2 linked regions of the Homo sapiens genome follow. The protein of the gene in region 1 interacts with the protein of each later gene in a pairwise test. Each region holds a gene or a part of one and is shown in the gene's direction. Other genes may lie near its edges.

Region 1 (5,478 bases):
ATAACCACACAGAAGTATATATTCTACCTTTTCTGTAAGGTTTTATGTTTTAGGGTAATAGAACAATAAGCAAAATTTTCCTTTGAGAATAATCACAGTTTCTGAAAGCAGGTAGAGCTAGCACATCATCATTATTGAAATAGTTGATCTAGGCAGTGATCATCAGTGGCAGGTAAAACCATTGGGTAGAGGTTTGATGGGGGAACTTTATAATAATGGATAAATCAGTTCAGTGCTACAAATCTACCATTCAGTCTTAACATCACAGAAAATGGTTCAGGCAGACATAATGTGCCTCCTAATAAATGGCAATAACAAGTACACAAGAATACTTAACGAATTATTCTTGCAACAATGACAAAACAACCTAGAAAAAGTAAAGCCTCTAGAAATAATTACCAGTTTATAGGAGATAGGGGGGATAGAGGAACACCATGAAAATATACACTAGCCAAATTCACGATGTGGGAAATGCTACAGGACAAGTGAAGCCAGCTTCTTAAATAAATGACATAGAGTGGGGAAAGAGAACAGTGTCAGAGACTTAAAACATGTTAGCTTAAGTGCAATATATCGACTTAGTTTGGATCCCAGTTCACACCAACTGTAAGAATGTTTAAAAAAATACACTTAGCAAAAATTGAATATTAGCATTAGATGAAATAAGTGTTGCAGGAGTTCTTAATAAAGGAACACCTTTTCAAAATGAGCTTTTGAAAATATACTGATAATTTAATTTTAGTATAATTGACTTGTTTGCAATCTTATATATTTTTATGCATCAGAAACATTGTGAGTAGAGGTTCTATGTTTCACCACACTGCCATTAGGCAGGAGGAGGGGAGGTCCATGGCTTAACCCATTTGTGCCTAGTGTTCCATTATTGGAACGCTAAGCTTGTGAGAGTTATTTATATCATGCTCAAGGTCGTCACCAAGGTCTGATTTTTCACACAAGAAATTGCAACCTCCGGCATATATGGGTTAAAAAAGGGAAAAGGTCAGGAGCCCTTGATTTGTTCATTTTTGAGGGGTATGGGTTTTTAATCTGTTAGTGCTTAATGAAATCATGGGATTCCAGTTCCCCCACCAAAAATTAGGGGGATAGCTGAACCACAAGGCATAATATTGATAAAATTGGGTGATAGGTATAGGATTCATTATACTATTCTCTTCTGTAAATGTTGAAAAGTGCCATAATTATAAAACTTAAAAGCATTATATAAATTTTTAGTTATTATACCAGTAATGTAGTAGAATGCTATTTTTGTACATTCTGGGGAGGACTAGATAATATTGGTAATACTTTTGTCACCCTGATAGGTAAAGTGTGGTATTTCAGTTTAGTTTTCATTTCTTTAATTATAAAGATATTCAGGATCTTTTGAATACTTTTTGACTATTTGTGTTTTCTCTTTCAGTTTTTATTTTAATTAAACTTTTTATTTTGAGATCATTATAGATCCACATGCAATTCTGAGAAACTTTAGAACTTATTGCGAGATCCAGTGTATGCTTTCCTCCAGTGGCAATACATCTGGCAGAAGTATAGTACAATATCACAATAATATTACAAAATTTCTTCATATTGCCCTTTTATAGTCATACTTACTTCCCTCCTGTTCCTGCTGCCCCGTTAACCCTGGCAACTACTAATCTGTTTCTAATTTCCATATTTTGTCATTTTGAGAGTGTTATATAAATGGAGTCATATAGTTAACCTTTGAGATTGGCTTTTTTCACTGAGCAGTTATAATTCCCTGGAGATTCATCCAGGTCGTTTTGTGCATCAATTGTTCTTTTTGGTATGAACGTACCAGTTTGTTTAATTATTTGCCTGTTGAAGGACATCTGGGTGGTTTCCGGTTTTTGACTGTTAGAAATAAAGTTGCTGTTAACATTCATGTAAAATGTGAACATAAATTTTCATTTCTCTGGGATAAATACCCAGGGGTGCAGTTGCTAGCTTGTATGGTAGTTGCATGTTTAGTTTTATGAGAAACTGTCAGACAATTTTGCGGAGTATCTGTACCATTTTACATTCTCATCAGCAGTATACGTGTGATCCAATTTCAACTTACCCTTGTCAGCATTTGGTATTACCACTCTTAGCCATTCTGACAAGCGTATGTAGTGACATCTCAGTGTGGTTTTAATTTGCATTTCTTTAATAGCTAATGATGAATACCTTTTCATCTGCTTATTTGCCATCTGTAAATCTTCAGTGAATGCCTCTTCATGTTTTTTTGCTCATTTTCTAGTTGGATTTGTTTTTCTAATGTTTCTTTAACTTTTCTAACTGCTTAAGATAGATACTCAGTTCATTAATTTATTTTTAGCTCTTTTTAAAATTTTATTTTAAATTTTATTATTATTATTATTATTATTTTTTGATACAGAGTCTCGCTCTGCGGCCCAGGCTGGAGTGCAGTGGCGCGATCTCGGCTCACTGCAAGCCCCGCCTCCCGGGTTCAAGCCATTCTCCTGCCTCAGCGTCCCAAGTAGCTGGGACTACAGGCACCCGCCACCACGCCTGTCTAATTTTTTTGTATTTTTAGTAGAGACAGGGTTTTACCGTGTTAGCCAGGATGGTCTCGATCTCCTGAACTTGTGATTCACCCGCCTCAGCCTCCTGAAGTGCTGGGATTACAGGCATGAGCCACCGCGCCCGGCCACTCTTTTTGTTTTTTAATGTTACTATTTAAAACTAAAAATCTGTCTATATACACTCCTCTTGCTACATCCCACAGAGTTCGATGTATAGTTTTTAAAATTATTTACTTCTAAGTATTTTCAAAATTCAATATGATTTCTTCTTAGATTCATTAGTTTTTAGAAGTTTCCAAACGTGGTATTTCAAAAGTTATCTTTTTGTTATGGTTGTTGGAGAATATGGTTGTAGGATATCAGTTACGTGAACATTGAGACATTCTTTATGGCCTGGCATTTGATTGCTTTTTGTATGTGTTTCATTTGTTTTCTATTTGGAAGCAATATTCTGTATATGTCTATTAAATCAGACTTGCTGGTTGTGATATGAGTTCTTCTCTAGCCTTAATAATGTTTGTATTTATTTATTTATTTTTTTGAGACCAAGTCTGGCTGTGTCACCCAGGCCTGGAGTGCAGTGGCACGATCTTGGCTAACTGCAACCTCCGCCTCCCAGGTTCAAGGGATTCTCCTGCCTCAGCCTCCTGAGTAGCTGGGATTCCAAGTGTGCGCCACCATACCTAGCTAATTTTTGTATTTTTAGTAGAGATGGGGTTTCACCATGTTGGCCAGGCTGGTCTTGCATTCCTGACCTCAGGTGATCCACCAGCCTCGGCCTCCCGAAGTGCTGGGATTACAGGTGTGTGCCACCAGGCCTGGCCGTTTTTATTTCTTTGTTTTGTTACTCTGATAATATGTTAAAAATTGTCCTCTGTGGTAATGGGTTTGTCAAGATCTCCTTGTGGTTCTGTCAACATATTTTGAAACTATCTTGTTACTAGGTACATAGAAGTTTAGATATTGTAATTGAGTAGAACATTTTTCATTGGGTAGTGAACTTTATTGCTAGTAATGGTTTTTGCCCTTTAAGTTTTGTTTGATACTAATAGAGCAACACCAGTCTCTTTATTGATTGGTTGATTGATTGATTGAGACAGATTCTCCCTCTGTCGCCAGGCTGGAGTGCAGTGGTGCGATATCGGCTCACTGCAACCTTCGCCTCCCAGGTTCAAGCTATTCCCATGCCTCAGCCTCCTGAGTAGCTGGGACTACGGGTGTGCACCATCACGCCCAGCTAATTTTTGTATTTTAGTACAGATGGGGTTTCACCATGTTGGCCAAGCTGGTCTCGAACTCAACCTCAAGTGATCTGCCTGCCTTGGCCTCCCAAAGTGCTGGGATTACAGGCATGAGCCACTGCGCACGGCCATACAGTCACAGTCTCTTTAAATTACTATTTGCCTCATGTATTTTTTTCCATATTTTTTACTTTTCATCTTTATGTCTTTAGATTTTTAGGTGTGTCTCTTTTGAAAAGCATGTGAACTAATACTACCTCAACCTTACATAAAAATATTTTCCATGTGTTTACAGTGCTGAAGCTGCTGAAAGATGGCAGAAGAAGTGGTGGTAGTAGCCAAATTTGATTATGTGGCCCAACAAGAACAAGAGTTGGACATCAAGAAGAATGAGAGATTATGGCTTCTGGATGATTCTAAGTCCTGGTGGCGAGTTCGAAATTCCATGAATAAAACAGGTTTTGTGCCTTCTAACTATGTGGAAAGGAAAAACAGTGCTCGGAAAGCATCTATTGTGAAAAACCTAAAGGATACCTTAGGTAAGATATTTTTTAAAAGAAAAGCAACTTTGTTTTAAATGAAACCTGCAACTTAGTTCTTTGTACATAATTCTGGCAGCAGTGTGCATAATTGACTTGAAAAGGCAAGGGCTAGGTAAGTTTGAGTCATAGCAGGTGGTCAACCCAGAAGACCAGTGAAGGTCATAAGTGTTAACATGCAGTTTCTGTAAATCTAGGCCCATGCTCCAAGTCAAGGCAGAGTGATACCAATGAGTAGAACTAACTCTCACCTTCTAGCAGGGGCTTTTTGAACCATGAATCACTGTTGGAGTTTAGACTTATAGGCAGAATTGCCTCTTTGGCACCAAGGCAACTTATGTACATGGCACATAATGAATTTTAACATCTAATGACCTTATGTTTTGAACTTCACTTAAAACCCTCCATTTTGTTTTTCTATTTGATAAGAGAACTGTGGATCATTACTGTACATTAGCACCTACAGAGCTCTTTTCTATTTTGTTTCTCTTTTTCCCTTTATTTCTCCAAAGTTTTTGTTTTTTATTTTTACTGGCCCTCCATTAGGGCCTGAGACAGTGGAGCCCACTTCACACTGGACTTGGCTAAGCTGATAGGAAGGAAATATGCATGGGCAAGGAATGGCCTCTTCTTTAAAAAAAAAAAAAAAAAAAAAAAATTAAACTCTCCTTAGCTGACAGGAAGGAATTGGGAGGGACAGAATTTCATTTTTGGTGTTCAGGCAAACATGCTATTTGCGTAATTGTTCTTTGTCTAGGTGTAGAAGAAAAGTACAATTTCTCCTTGTGCAGACAGTTTGGGAGCAATATAGCATGACTGACAAATATGAAATACTGTTGACTCACTACTTTACATTAGTTTTTATTTATTTATTTTTTATGGTTTTGTAGAGATGGAGTCTTGCTCTGTTGTCCAGGCCAAACTTGAACTCCTGGGCTCAAGCAACCCTCCCACCTCAGCTTCCTGAGTAGCTGGGACTACAGATGCTTACTACCATACCCAGCTTAGTTTTTATTCTTATTCAACATTATTGTTATTCTAGAATGTTCTTCTAATTATCAATAAAATACAAATATTTAATGTTTTTAACCATTGTAAAACTGCAAAAACTAAAATATAGTACAATTTGGAGTAAGATATAAAGTAGTGGAT
Region 2 (4,488 bases), on another chromosome or scaffold:
GATCACACCATTGCACTCCAGCCTGGGCAACAAGAGTGGAAACTCCGTCTCAAAAAAAACCCAAAGAAACAAAAAGCATTGAACTCACAGTGCGGTTGGCACAGAAGTTCACAAATGGGAGCCACTGCTGATGTGAGCTTTACTCCACCAGAACTACGACTGCTTGTCAGAAACCTTTAGGGCCAGGTGTGTTTCAGAATTTCGAATTTCTCCAATTCTGGAAAAGTGGTGCCATATGTGTGGTGTGTGTCATGTCACACGCTTGCCTTTCGGCGGCCAAACTTGGGATGTCACATCATGTGGATAAATGGATCCCACCTAAAGTGCCATGTTGGTTCTGGTCAGGTTTTGCTGCCAACAGAGCTATGAAAACAGTCTCAGTTCTTAGAGCTTTTTGGGTTTTGTAATTACAGATAAGTGTTGTGGGCCTATATCACTATTTAAACAATAGTTGCTTATTTTTATTTATTTTTGTTTTGTTTTGTTTTGAGATGGAGTCTCACTCTGTCACCCAGGCTGGAGGGCATTGGTAGGATCTCAGCTCATTACAGCCTCCACCTCCCAGGTTCAAGCCATTCTCCTGCCTCAGCCTCCCGAGTAGCTGGGACTGCAGGCACGTGCCACCACGCCTGGCTAATTTTCGTATTTTTAGTAGAGATGGTGTTTCACCATGTTGGTCAGGCAGGTCTCAAACTCCTAGGCTCAAGTGATCCACCTGCCTCTGCCTCCCAAAGTGCTGGGATTACAGGTGTGAGCCACCGTGCCTAGACTTTATTTTTGTTTTTTGGGCGTCAGCTGGTAGAGATTGGGGGACAGCACCCCCGCGGGCTTGGGCTGGATGGGCATGGGCGTGCGATGCAGGATCACGTTGGGCGCCGGGACCAGTGGTGACAAGCTGAGGCCTGGGGCCACCACCAGCGGCTTTCCTGAGGGTGCCCCGCTGGGTCTTACTCTTGTCACTTAGGCTGGAGTACAGTGACACAATCATAGCTCACCGTAGCCTGGAACTCCTGGGCTTAAGAGATCCTCTCACCTCAGGCTCCCAAAGTGCTAAGATTACAGGCGTGAGTCACTGTGGCCTTGAACAGTAGTTTTTTTTATTACATTTTACTGATGGGTACAGATGAAGAAACTGAGGTCAGATCAAGCACGCCCTAGGTTACACAGCTAAGCCTTGGCAGAGCTGGGATTTGATCCCGGGTCCAGCCACTTGCAGGTGGAATGTTCTTTTTTCTTTTTTTTTTCTTTTTTTCTTCTTTTTTTTTTTTTCTTCTCAAAGTCTTGCCCTGTCACCGAGGCTGGAGTGTAGTGAAGTGCTCGTAGCTCCACTCTGCAGCCTCAAACTCCTGGGCTCCAGTGATCCTCTCACCTCAGCCTCCCAAGTAGCTAAGACCACAGGCACATGCTGCCACCCCTGACTAATTTTTCTTTTTTAAAATTTTTTTCTCACTGCGTTGCCCAGGCTGGTCTCAAACTCTTTGGCTCAAGCCATCCATCCTCCTACCTCAGCCTCCCAAAGTGCTGAGATTACAAGCGTGAACCACCATGCCAGGAGGGAATGTTCTTTCTTGAACGTGGCTGCCCTGTCACCTCAGCATTCTTTGCGGCAGCTGTGGCCTAAGCGTAGCCCCTTGCTAACCTCAGCTCTTTCCTTCCCACCTTTCCCGGCCTGCAGCTCCATGTGCAAGAAGCTTCCGGCAACCACCTGAACCCAGAGCCCAACCAGCCGGCCCCCAGTGTGGACCTAGACTTCCTGGAAGATGACATCCTGGGCTCTCCTGCGACAGGGGGCGGCGGCGGGGGCAGTGGGGGCGCTGACCAGCCCTGTGACATCCTCCAGCAGAGCCTCCAAGAGGCCAACATCACGGAGCAGACGCTGGAGGCCGAGGCTGAGCTGGACCTGGGTCCCTTCCAGCTGCCCACCCTGCAGCCTGCGGATGGCGGGGCAGGCCCGACGGGCGCTGGAGGGGCAGCGGCCGTGGCTGCGGGGCCCCAAGCCCTCTTCCCAGGCAGCACCGACCTGCTGGGGCTGCAGGGCCCGCCTACCGTGCTGACCCACCAGGCCCTGGTGCCGCCCCAGGACGTGGTCAACAAGGCCCTGAGTGTGCAGCCCTTCCTGCAGCCTGTGGGCCTGGGCAATGTGACACTGCAGCCCATCCCGGGCCTCCAAGGCCTGCCCAATGGCAGCCCTGGGGGTGCCACGGCGGCCACACTGGGCCTGGCGCCCATCCAGGTGGTGGGCCAGCCCGTCATGGCGCTCAACACGCCCACCTCCCAGCTCCTGGCCAAGCAGGTGCCCGTCAGCGGCTACCTGGCCTCGGCGGCTGGCCCCTCGGAGCCCGTGACGCTGGCGTCGGCCGGTGTCTCGCCACAGGGGGCTGGCCTGGTCATCCAGAAGAACCTCTCGGCCGCTGTGGCCACCACGCTCAATGGGAACTCTGTGTTCGGAGGCGCGGGGGCCGCCTCGGCTCCCACCGGGACGCCCTCGGGACAGCCGCTGGCGGTGGCCCCAGGCCTCGGCTCGTCGCCACTGGTCCCGGCGCCCAACGTGATCCTGCATCGCACACCCACGCCCATCCAGCCCAAGCCCGCGGGGGTGCTGCCGCCCAAGCTCTACCAGCTGACGCCCAAGCCGTTTGCGCCCGCGGGCGCCACGCTCACCATCCAGGGCGAGCCGGGGGCGCTCCCGCAGCAGCCCAAGGCCCCGCAGAACCTGACGTTCATGGCGGCGGGGAAGGCGGGCCAGAACGTGGTGCTGTCGGGCTTCCCCGCGCCTGCGCTGCAAGCGAACGTCTTCAAGCAGCCACCGGCCACCACCACCGGAGCGGCCCCGCCGCAGCCCCCCGGGGCCCTGAGCAAACCCATGAGCGTCCACCTCCTGAACCAAGGCAGCAGCATCGTCATCCCCGCCCAGCACATGCTGCCGGGCCAGAACCAGTTCCTACTGCCTGGCGCCCCGGCGGTCCAGCTCCCGCAGCAGCTCTCAGCCCTGCCGGCCAACGTGGGCGGGCAGATCCTGGCGGCCGCTGCCCCCCACACAGGTGGACAGCTCATCGCGAACCCCATCCTCACAAACCAGAACCTGGCGGGCCCACTGAGCCTGGGCCCCGTGTTGGCCCCCCACTCCGGGGCCCACAGCGCGCACATCCTCTCCGCCGCTCCCATCCAGGTGGGCCAGCCTGCGCTCTTCCAGATGCCCGTGTCGCTGGCGGCGGGCAGCCTGCCCACGCAGAGCCAGCCAGCGCCCGCCGGGCCGGCCGCCACCACTGTCCTCCAGGGGGTCACCCTGCCCCCCAGCGCCGTGGCCATGCTCAACACCCCCGACGGCCTGGTGCAGCCGGCCACCCCTGCCGCTGCCACCGGGGAGGCCGCGCCTGTCCTCACGGTGCAGCCTGCCCCCCAGGCGCCCCCCGCGGTCAGCACACCCCTGCCCCTGGGCCTCCAGCAGCCGCAGGCGCAGCAGCCCCCGCAGGCCCCCACCCCACAGGCCGCCGCCCCGCCTCAGGCCACCACCCCCCAGCCCAGCCCTGGCCTGGCGTCTAGCCCGGAGAAGATCGTCCTGGGGCAGCCGCCCTCTGCCACCCCCACGGCCATCCTCACTCAGGACTCCCTGCAGATGTTCCTGCCCCAGGTAAGCAGGGCGGGGCAAGGGAGCAGGTACCGGAGGAGGCGGGTTTGGGAGGAAGAGGGGTCCTGGGGCGAGGCGCCAAGATCCAAAAGTGGATGCCACTGTGGCAGCTGGGGGGGGAAGGTCTCAGTCATGGCACAGGTGGCCCCTAAGAGGAGGCCCGAAGGGTGAGGGCCCTGGCTGAACTGGCAGGAAGATGGATTGGCAGGTTGGCTGACTGATAGACAAGGGGCAGGACAACTGTTAGGCAGTGAGAGGGACTGGCAGACAGACAGACAAAGAGAGGGACCAGTGAACAGACAGAAGGGTAGGCACTGGCTGGGCTGCTGACAGATGGAGAGGAGAGGGACCGGCAGGGAGAGGGACTACCCGACGGACAGAGAAGGGCAGGCACTGGCTGGCCTGCTGACAGACAAGGAGAGGAATCTCAGAGAGAAAGTGGACGAGACAGGGACAGAGGGACAGGCAGGTGGGGCAGGAGAGAGGCAGGGCAACGTGGAGCTGGCAGAGGGGCCAATGGGAGCTCAGAATGGAGCAGGCTGCCTGGGTTTCGGCCTCTGTGCCTGGCACCCTGCCTGCCAGGCTGCCCACTACCCCATTCTCTGGAACCCTGGGAGCGTCAATAGGGGCAGGGGTCTCGGGTGGGGAGGTCGAGGGCCTGTGGGGGCGGCTTTCTGATCCTGTGCGGGCTGCCCGTTGCAGGAGAGGAGCCAGCAGCCCCTCTCCGCAGAGGGCCCCCACCTCTCCGTGCCTGCCTCGGTCATAGTCAGCGCCCCGCCTCCCGCCCAAGACCCAGCCCCAGCCACCCCCGTCGCCAAAGGAGCTGGCCTCGGCCCTCAGGCCCCCGACAGCCAGGCTTC

What was found.
Region 2: the proteins of NCK1 (region 1) and BICRA interact in binary tests that used the Homo sapiens proteins (3 or more experiments, as listed by UniProt).

The regions. Positions count from the first base shown.
Region 1 is NC_000003.12:136,923,902-136,929,379, forward strand, and holds part of NCK1 (SH2/SH3 adapter protein NCK1), read left to right. Parts: intron 1-4,082; 5' UTR 4,083-4,100; coding exon 4,101-4,326; intron 4,327-5,478. UniProt on the Homo sapiens protein: Adapter protein which associates with tyrosine-phosphorylated growth factor receptors, such as KDR and PDGFRB, or their cellular substrates. Maintains low levels of EIF2S1 phosphorylation by promoting its dephosphorylation by PP1.
Region 2 is NC_000019.10:47,677,646-47,682,133, forward strand, and holds part of BICRA (BRD4-interacting chromatin-remodeling complex-associated protein), read left to right. Parts: intron 1-1,675; coding exon 1,676-3,631; intron 3,632-4,330; coding exon 4,331-4,488. UniProt on the Homo sapiens protein: Component of SWI/SNF chromatin remodeling subcomplex GBAF that carries out key enzymatic activities, changing chromatin structure by altering DNA-histone contacts within a nucleosome in an ATP-dependent manner.